Regions from separate parts of the Homo sapiens genome. Here all the other regions are linked to region 2. The links come from fine-mapping of genetic effects on gene expression. A gene starts in region 2. Each other region holds a variant in brackets. All regions are shown on one strand. Distances are from middle to middle.

Region 1 (2,847 bases), 100 kb after region 2:
ATGTTGCTGGCTACTGGGGAGGAGAAGAGGGAACAGCGCAAATCCAGAAGCCTGGTTCTTTGTCCTTAAGGTCTGGCTGGAAAGAAGAAGAGCACATGCAACTCCATCGCTGAATGATCCTGAGTATCTCAGGGTGCTGATCATGTCCTAACCAGGGACCCAGGCCCATGGCAGACCACTTGTGCCACAGAGAGATGCCAGCTTAGGTTGAGGGACCCAGAGGAGCCTGGCCCACAGCTGGTCTGGCTGTGCTTGGGGTGCCCTTGAAGGCATGGCCTGTGGCCTTGATGGAACTCAGAGGGGATACATCTCATCTCAGGCCCAGAAACTGAGCTCGCAAAAACTCCTTGAGCTGGAGGTGAGAGATGACCAAGCAAGAGAAACATCAGTTGCTACAAAATCACTGTAAGAATGGCTTCTGAAACAGGGGCCAGCCCGAGAGCTATACAGAAACCCTTTTTGAGCGAGAGCTGGCTTTCATGTCCCCATCTCACAGATGGGTTTTGACGTCAGAGGAGAGAACCAGCGGAAACCTTATCGAGTGGGACACGGCTGTGGCTCTAGCCTTGCGCTCAGATCCATTTTGCTGACTCACCGGTAGAGGCAGAGGACAGGATCGCAAAGCTCCTGTCTTCCAGAAAGGACTCCCTGGGGCTCCATGAAGAGAGCGCTCTCAGTAACATTTACACTACATTTTGTTCCTGTTTGCCTTTAAAATGTTTTGTTTTCCCCCAGTTCTCTTGGAGTGGGAGATAAAATCTGGGTAGGGAGCTAAGTTTGTGGTTTCTCCTTCTGCTGGAAAAATTGATCTTCCTGAAAGCTTGCATGGTCTGTTCTCAGGGAAGGCTGGGAACATTGTTGGGTAGGTCCAGTAGCAAACTCCAGACTCATAAATGAATCGTGGAGAGCTGACAGGAAGGTACCACCTGGACAACATGAGCTTTAGCCCAACCTGGGAATATCCATGCACAGTCCTTGGGGTTTGAAAGGTAATTTTTTATATAGAAATAAGCAGGAGCTCATTTAACTTACCACATGGTCTTTTGGGGGTCAGTGGATTTGTTAATATATGATGCCAACAAGGTGTTTTGCCCAGAACCACTGTGTAGAGGGTGTTGCTGTGGGCTGTTGTCTATTGTTTCACAGCATTGAGGGTAAGGCAACGAGGTTCCATTGTCTGGCCATGCCACTTAACTCTGTGACCTTAGACAAATTAGTTAATCACACTATGCCTCAGTTCTTTCAACTGTAAAATGGGGATAATGCTGGTGCCTTCCTCATAGGGTTATTCTGAGGATTAAAGGATATAACGTACTAAATACCTTGGCACAGGGCCTAGCATACAGTGGGCACTAAATCATTGGTTATGATTATGAAGTATGAGTGAGTGGACCAGATCTTTTGCCTACACTCCATATCGGAAACCAGATGTTTGTCCCTAGAGCTCTGTGGTCAGTGAACACGTGCATGACTTCTGAGGTTCCTGCCAAGGTTCAGAGCAAGCATTTCAGGGTCAAGGCTCTGGGTCAGTGGGCACTGCCCAGGGCAGCAGGAGAGACAGAGCTGTCACACTGCCTGCCCAGCTTCATGGCTGTCTTTGTATCTGTTCTCCTTTCCTGGTTGCTTACATATGTTAT[C/T]GTGTTAGGCCCATTATCCATAATGAAACATTCAGAGTGTTTAGCAACCCAGAAGCTATTGCAGTCCTTCGCTGAAGGACTCTGTTGTTATGAAATGAATCATTTCCAGGAGAAAACAAGTGAAAGCTCCAACAGCCATACTCCTGGGCTGAGAGCAATAACCATTTAAATAGCGAGAGTGAACACTCATTGGTCTCAACCCCTTAAAAGGTTTTCTTGGGATAAATTGGTGCTTGCTGAGTGATTTGCTTCTCTGTGAGGGTATTCTGGGTGCTGGCTGAAATGAGCAAGGAGGAGGCAGGCCCTGGACCACAAAGGCTCCTCTCTGATAAAGAATCAGAAGAGGAAATTAGAAAAGCAAAAATCTGGACAGGCCATGAAAAAGAGGAGACGGAGAAGGTTGGCCAGGTCTTTGCTGTGTTGTAAAAAAGAGGAGGTTTCTGTCTCTTGAGAATCCAGAGCCCAGAGGAGATGAGGTGTGGGGGTTGCAGCTCTGTAGCCAGGGCAAAACTGCAGGAGAAGGGCTCACCCAGTGTAGCAGGGCAGCTCTGCTGTGGTCTGAAGGAGGCTTAAACACAGGGATGGGAAAGTGATGGGGTGGCTGGAATAGGCCTGCATTTTGAAAATCAAAACTAGATTTATTTCCTTTCATTTGTTGTACTGCTGTGGTTACTCAGAAACCAGCAACTATGTCAGGTTCCTGGTTTACAGAGTAAACCAATAGCAAGTCCTTTAATGTGCTTCTAGAGGTATGCTTTCCTTCCTTGAGAAACAAGGAAGGATTACAAGATTAACACTTACCTTATATATGAGTAAGATGATTAACAAGATCAGCACTTACCTTATATAAGAGTAAGATGAAAGGCCCAACAAGACAGACTCTAAGGAGCATGTAAAATATCAAGCCTTGCTTAAACAGGATCTGGGCAAAATACATCCTAGCAGTTTGCATTAAACAGATTATACTGTTAATGCTATTTTAAAGCTATTTGCTTCTCACTCATGTGGTTTCAGGACTTCCACAGATACTAAAATCCTCAGATGCTCAAGTCCCTTCTACAAAGTGGTGTCGTTTTTGCATATAACCTACACACGTTCTTCCATACACTTTAAATGATCTCTGGATTACTTAGTCATGTGCTGCATAATGATGTTTCAGTTGACAACAGACCGCATGTACAGTGGAAGTCCTGTACGATTACACTGAACC
Region 2 (2,500 bases):
TAATAGCACAGTGCCTGCTGCATTGGAGGGGTTCAGCGGCAGGAAAATCTGTGGAAGGAAAAAACAAACGTAATATCTCTTTCTTCAGGTCAGCCTTCCATTATTCTTCCCCTTTTCCTTATATTTAACTAACTTCATCCTCAGAAAAATCCCCTCTGTCACCTCCCCCCGGCCAGGAGAGATTACAGAGGCATGGACAGAACACTGTTCACCTAAGCCAGGAAGGCCCCTGGTGCCCACGCAGCCAGAGCAGGAGGCAGGCCCTCAGAAAGTCTCCTGGCCATCAGCCTGGCCTGGGTAGGGGCTCCCTCCTAAGTTTCCTGCCAGACTGAGGCTACGTATGACCATTTATGGGCCCCTAGTTGTTACAAAGGTGTTTCCAGTTCATTCGGGAAGGAAGACTGATCTCAAAAGCTGCTGATGTTAAAGAGGGATTCAGAAAAGTTTGGGAGCCCCAGGCTTGGGGATGGGATCAGGATGGGGAAATATCCTGTTCTAAGGGAGAAGGGACCCTCTGGGCCCAGCTAGGTCAGGTAGGCAAATGTCACTTGGGATTGCCCCTGTATGCCCTGAATGTCTTAAGATTCTGTAGTTGGAAGAGGGAAGATTCAGAAAAGAGAAAACCTTTGCTGTTTCCCAGGTTGTTGGGTCTCAACGGCGGGGGATTTCACCCACTTTGTCCCCAGGGACAGCTCTCCTGCTGTGGTGTACCGGCCCGCCTGGACTCCACGAGCAATGGCCGCGGATTCAGAGACCCCCTGTGCGCCTGGAGAGCACAGCTTTGGGGAACCTGGCCCGGAAAGGAGCCTGGAGGAGAGCAGAGGTGAAGAGGGGCTGTCACTTGCCGAGCTCCACGCTAGCCAGAGGCAGGAGCGCTACGCTGGCCCTCCTCCCTCCGGGCCCTAGATGGCCCCAGCGCTCCGGAGTCATCGCGCCCCGCGTGCGCGCCCGCCTGCTCCGCGCACCTGCCGTGGCCGCCGCGCGGGTCTGACCGGCTGGCGGGCGGGCGGCGCGCACAGGTGGCGGCGATTGGGCAGGCGGGGCCCAGAGGGTGACGTCACGGGCTCCGGTCCCGGCGGCAGAAATAGGGCAGCCGCGGCGGCGGTGGCACAGCAGCGGGCAGCGGCGGCTCAGGGAGCTGGAGCCTCAACAGCCTCCAGCGAGCCCGGGACCCGCCGACAGCCCGAGAAACCAGCCGAAGGACGCGGGGCGGGGTCGCCGCCGCCGCCACGGGGTGCTCCCTCCCTCCCGCCCAAGTCCGGCCACCTGGTCTTCCCCTCGGCCCCGGCCGTCTCAGGTACGCGGGCGCAGCTCCCAGCGGGCGCGGGGAGGGTGCCATGTCGCTGGCGCCGCCACCAGCCGGTCCCGCTGCACCCCACTGGGGTCCTGGCGCCCGCGGCCCCGCATCTTGCTGCAGGGCCCGGCGCGGGCGCTTGCTTGTCCTTACTGCCCGCGCCGGGAAAGCCAAGTTTGCCCGCGGGGAAGGGACCGCTGGGCCAGGGCTCGGCAGGGCTACCCCGGCCAAGGCCAGGACTCGAGGAGAGGCTGGGACGCCGAGGCTCGTGGCCGGGGTCTACGGTGGGGACCGGAGTGACCCGGTTGGCACGCGGGGCGCCACGCAGAAGCGCTCGGGCCGAGCCCGCAGCTCGCGCCCGGCTCCGAAATCCTGCAGGCGCCGTTCTTGGGTTCAGGACCCCGAGCGGCCCCGGCGGAGCCAGGCGAGCGCGGCCCCTCGGCCCGGGCCCGGTGCCCTTGGCTCCGGGTTGGGGCGCCGGGCAGGCATTCTCAGCACCTCCTCCCCGCGGCTTTGCGGGGAAACTTGCGTCTCCTCGCTGCAGCCCAAAGGGCCCGCTGCGCTTCGCCTGGCCCTGGCTTCCCCGGGGTCCGCCGCATGTGAGGCTGGGGAGGAAGGAATCAGGGCACGACCCGACTCCAGGCAGCCTGCGGCGCTGCTTGTGCGTAGCCGGCCGCGGTCCAGAGTGAGCGGCCCGGGGTACCCGCTTGAACGTGTCTAGGGAGCAGTGTGTTGGGGGCGTTCAGCGTTCGGGCTGGGGGCTTGGTCCTAAGAGAGCTTGCACTGTGGATGATCTCCGCCCTCTTTGCGCCCGCAAAACAAAGACGAGTTCTGAGTTTCAGGAGGGACCTGGACGAGGCAGGCACAGCACTCTGCTTTCGGCGCCTGTCGCCTCGAGTTTGGGGACGAGCTGACGCTAGTCTTTGGGGCTCCCTGCAGCCGACAAAGCGGCGCCAACCCCAGGCCTGCCACCTGAGGACTTTGTGCCCGCAACTCTTGCGGGAGCGGAAAGCCGCCGAGGCAGTGGGGTTTCTTGTTTTCCAGAGCGCGGCGAGCCTCCGCGCGGCGCGGCAAGTGCACTAGGAGTGCGCGGGTCAGCGGGGCGGGCCCGGCGAGGTCGGTGTCGCGGCTCGAGAGCGGGTGCCGGGGCGCTGTCCAGCAGCCCTCGCTCGCGGCCGCGGGCCGCCGACACTGATGAATGGCGCG
Region 3 (2,847 bases), 23 kb after region 2:
CAGGCCGACTTGCATTTTGCCAGTCACTACCCTGGTCCTCCCCTCCATCCTGGTGCCAGTGCCCTTGGCTCCTGGGGTACTATGGTTGGAATGTGTTCCCCAAAAAGCATGTGTTGGAAACTTAATCCCCAGTGCCACAAGTTGGGTGATGGTGCCTAATGGGGGTGTTTAGGTAACGAAGGCTCCATGCTCCATCCTCAGGAATGCCGATTACAGAAGGGCTTGAGACTGGGAATTGGATCTCTTGCTCTCTGTCTTTGACCTTTCACCATGGGAGTATGCAGCAAGGAGGCCTTTGCAAAATGCCAGCCCCTCAATCTTGGACTTCCCAGACTCCAGAACTGTGAGCCAATACATTTCTGTTCATTATAAAGTACCCAGTCTCAGGTATTCTGTTATAGCAGCACAAAATGGACTAAGGCAGCCTGTGTCCACGCCTGACCCATCAAACTCACTAAAGGGGAGCAGGCTTTGGTGCTCAGTTGTGGCCCTGTGACTCCAGAGATACATATCCTGTGGCTGTAGGGAGCTCCTTAGTGCAGCTGCTTTGAGGTTTAGCTGGAATCATTCTTGGAAAGAAAGAGGGGTTACATGGGAGGGGAGTCATGGCTTGACCAGATGCCTCTTCTTAGAAGGTCCACCACCCTGCCAAATCCAGCAAGCAAAATAGTTGAGCTGCTGTGGGATAATTTGGCCTGTCATCATGGAAGACAAGATGAGATAGATGCACTCCCCACCTCCCCAGTTCTGAATCTCAGCTTTGCTCCCAGCTAGATACAAAGTCTTATTGCATTAAAAATTTGGTTTTTGTTGTGATATCTCTTTCTGTGTAGCCAAGAGTTAGAGAGGGCTAGGGAACCAGGGACATCTCTAGGGTGAGGATGAAAGGGGGCAGTGTCATCTGGAGCTCTGGGCTGGAAGTCTGAATGGCTCCTCTTATCCTTCTCTTATAAGAATAAAGAGGAAGATCATGCCACTGCACTCTAGCCTGGTGACAGAGCGACAGAGCAAGACTGTGTCTCAAATAAATAAATAAATAAATAAATAAATAAAGAGGAGATTCCCAATAGGAATTCTCATTCCTAATATGAATTTCTTAATTCCATAGCTATTGATATGATAGAATTAATAAACAGCTTTCATTTTGCCAAAGCACTAAGTAGATTAATTCATTGACTTCTCAAAGAGAGTCTATGAGGTATTATTAATTTGTTTATTTTACACATGTAGAAATTGAGGCTTCAAGATAAGTGAGCTGTTTGAGATCTCCCATATAGTAAGTGGTGGAGCCAGGGTTTGCATCTGGCTTTCTGACTATCTAGCATGTATTCCTAACCACAGTATTGTGCTCTTATCCCCAAGGACATATTTTTGAATCTAGGGAAAGGACATTTGATGACATTGAGCTTTGGAAGGCCAAAGCAGACAACGTCACATCAGAGGAGGCATCCCCTCCTCCTGGAGGGCAGCAGAGTTTGAGGTGGTCTTCTGGGGCTGGGCGGTGGGTGGCCTCTTGACCTTCTGTGGGGAGAGATGAGTTCTGCCCCTATTCCCCCTCCT[C/T]CCCAACAATTTCTCTTCTTTCACCATCAGGCAGCCACTGAACCTCTGAGAATTAACATATTAACATTCCTTTGGCTATTTCCTTGCACTTCTTCCAGGATTCCACTGGGGACTTGGCAGCTACTGCCCTCACATGGGACAGTGAGGGCAGTGTCTGTGGGTGGAGGACTAAGTGTGTGATATTTGGTGGTCTCTGTTTCTGCTTTTAAGAATTGGCCTTGGGAAGTTCCTAAGGGTTGACCACAGCAGTCTCCCTTTCAGAAGCAAGGTTCTGGGGCCTTGATCTTTTTTTTTTTTTTTATTATACTCTAAGTTTTAGGGTACATGTGCACATTGTGCAGGTTAGTTACATATGTATACATGTGCCATGCTGGTGCGCTGCACCCACTAACGTGTCATCTAGCATTAGGTATATCTCCCAATGCTATCCCTCCCCCCTCCCCCGACCCCACCACAGTCCCCAGAGTGTGATATTCCCCTTCCTGTGTCCATGTGATCTCATTGTTCAATTCCCACCTATGAGTGAGAATATGCGGTGTTTGGTTTTTTGTTCTTGCGATAGTTTACTGAGAATGATGGTTTCCAATTTCATCCATGTCCCTACAAAGGACATGAACTCATCATTTTTTATGGCTGTATAGTATTCCATGGTGTATATGTGCCACATTTTCTTAATCCAGTCTATCATTGTTGGACATTTGGGTTGGTTCCAAGTCTTTGCTATTGTGAATAGTGCCGCAATAAACATACGTGTGCATGTGTCTTTATAGCAGCATGATTTATAGTCCTTTGGGTATATACCCAGTAATGGGATGGCTGGGTCAAATGGTATTTCTAGTTCTAGATCCCTGAGGAATCGCCACACTGACTTCCACAATGGTTGAACTAGTTTACAGTCCCACCAACAGTGTAAAAGTGTTCCTATTTCTCCACATCCTCTCCAGCACCTGTTGTTTCCTGACTTTTTAATGATTGCCATTCTAACTGGTGTGAGATGATATCTCATAGTGGTTTTGATTTGCATTTCTCTGATGGCCAGTGATGATGAGCATTTCTTCATGTGTTTTTTGGCTGCATAAATGTCTTCTTTTGAGAAGTGTCTGTTCATGTCCTTCGCCCACTTTTTGATGGGGTTGTTTGTTTTTTTCTTGTAAATTTGTTTGAGTTCATTGTAGATTCTGGATATTAGCCCTTTGTCAGATGCGTAGGTTGCGAAAATTTTCTCCCATGTTGTAGGTTGCCTGTTCACTCTCATGGTAGTTTCTTTTGCTGTGCAGAAGCTCTTTA

Direction of the effects. Positions count from the first base shown, and alleles are read on the strand shown. Sizes are in standard deviations (SD) of each study's normalised expression. Not every link is listed here.
As copies of C replace T in region 1, the expression in whole blood of the gene that starts at base 1,081 in region 2 goes down (moderate effect, 0.61 SD a copy in GTEx).

The links. PIP is the estimated chance that this variant, and not a neighbour inherited with it, causes the effect.
Region 1: its variant is the best candidate, but not a certain one, in a credible set for the expression of FSTL4 in whole blood (GTEx, PIP 0.55).
Region 3: its variant is the best candidate, but not a certain one, in a credible set for the expression of FSTL4 in iPS cells (HipSci, PIP 0.55).

Annotation. Positions count from the first base shown.
Region 1 is chr5:133,508,536-133,511,382 of GRCh38, reverse strand. The region is part of intron 3 of FSTL4 (follistatin like 4); the gene reads left to right. Among named protein-coding and RNA genes, the nearest start is that of MIR1289-2, 82 kb to the right of the region's middle. The variant C/T (reference allele first, on the strand shown) is at 1,638.
Region 2 is chr5:133,611,122-133,613,621 of GRCh38, reverse strand. FSTL4 (follistatin like 4) reads left to right here and starts at 1,081. Exons shown (of 16, transcript NM_015082.2): 1 at 1,081-1,297. RefSeq lists a silencer at 2,350-2,399.
Region 3 is chr5:133,588,300-133,591,146 of GRCh38, reverse strand. All of the region lies in intron 2 of FSTL4 (follistatin like 4), which reads left to right. Among named protein-coding and RNA genes, the nearest start is that of FSTL4, 23 kb to the left of the region's middle. The variant C/T (reference allele first, on the strand shown) is at 1,561.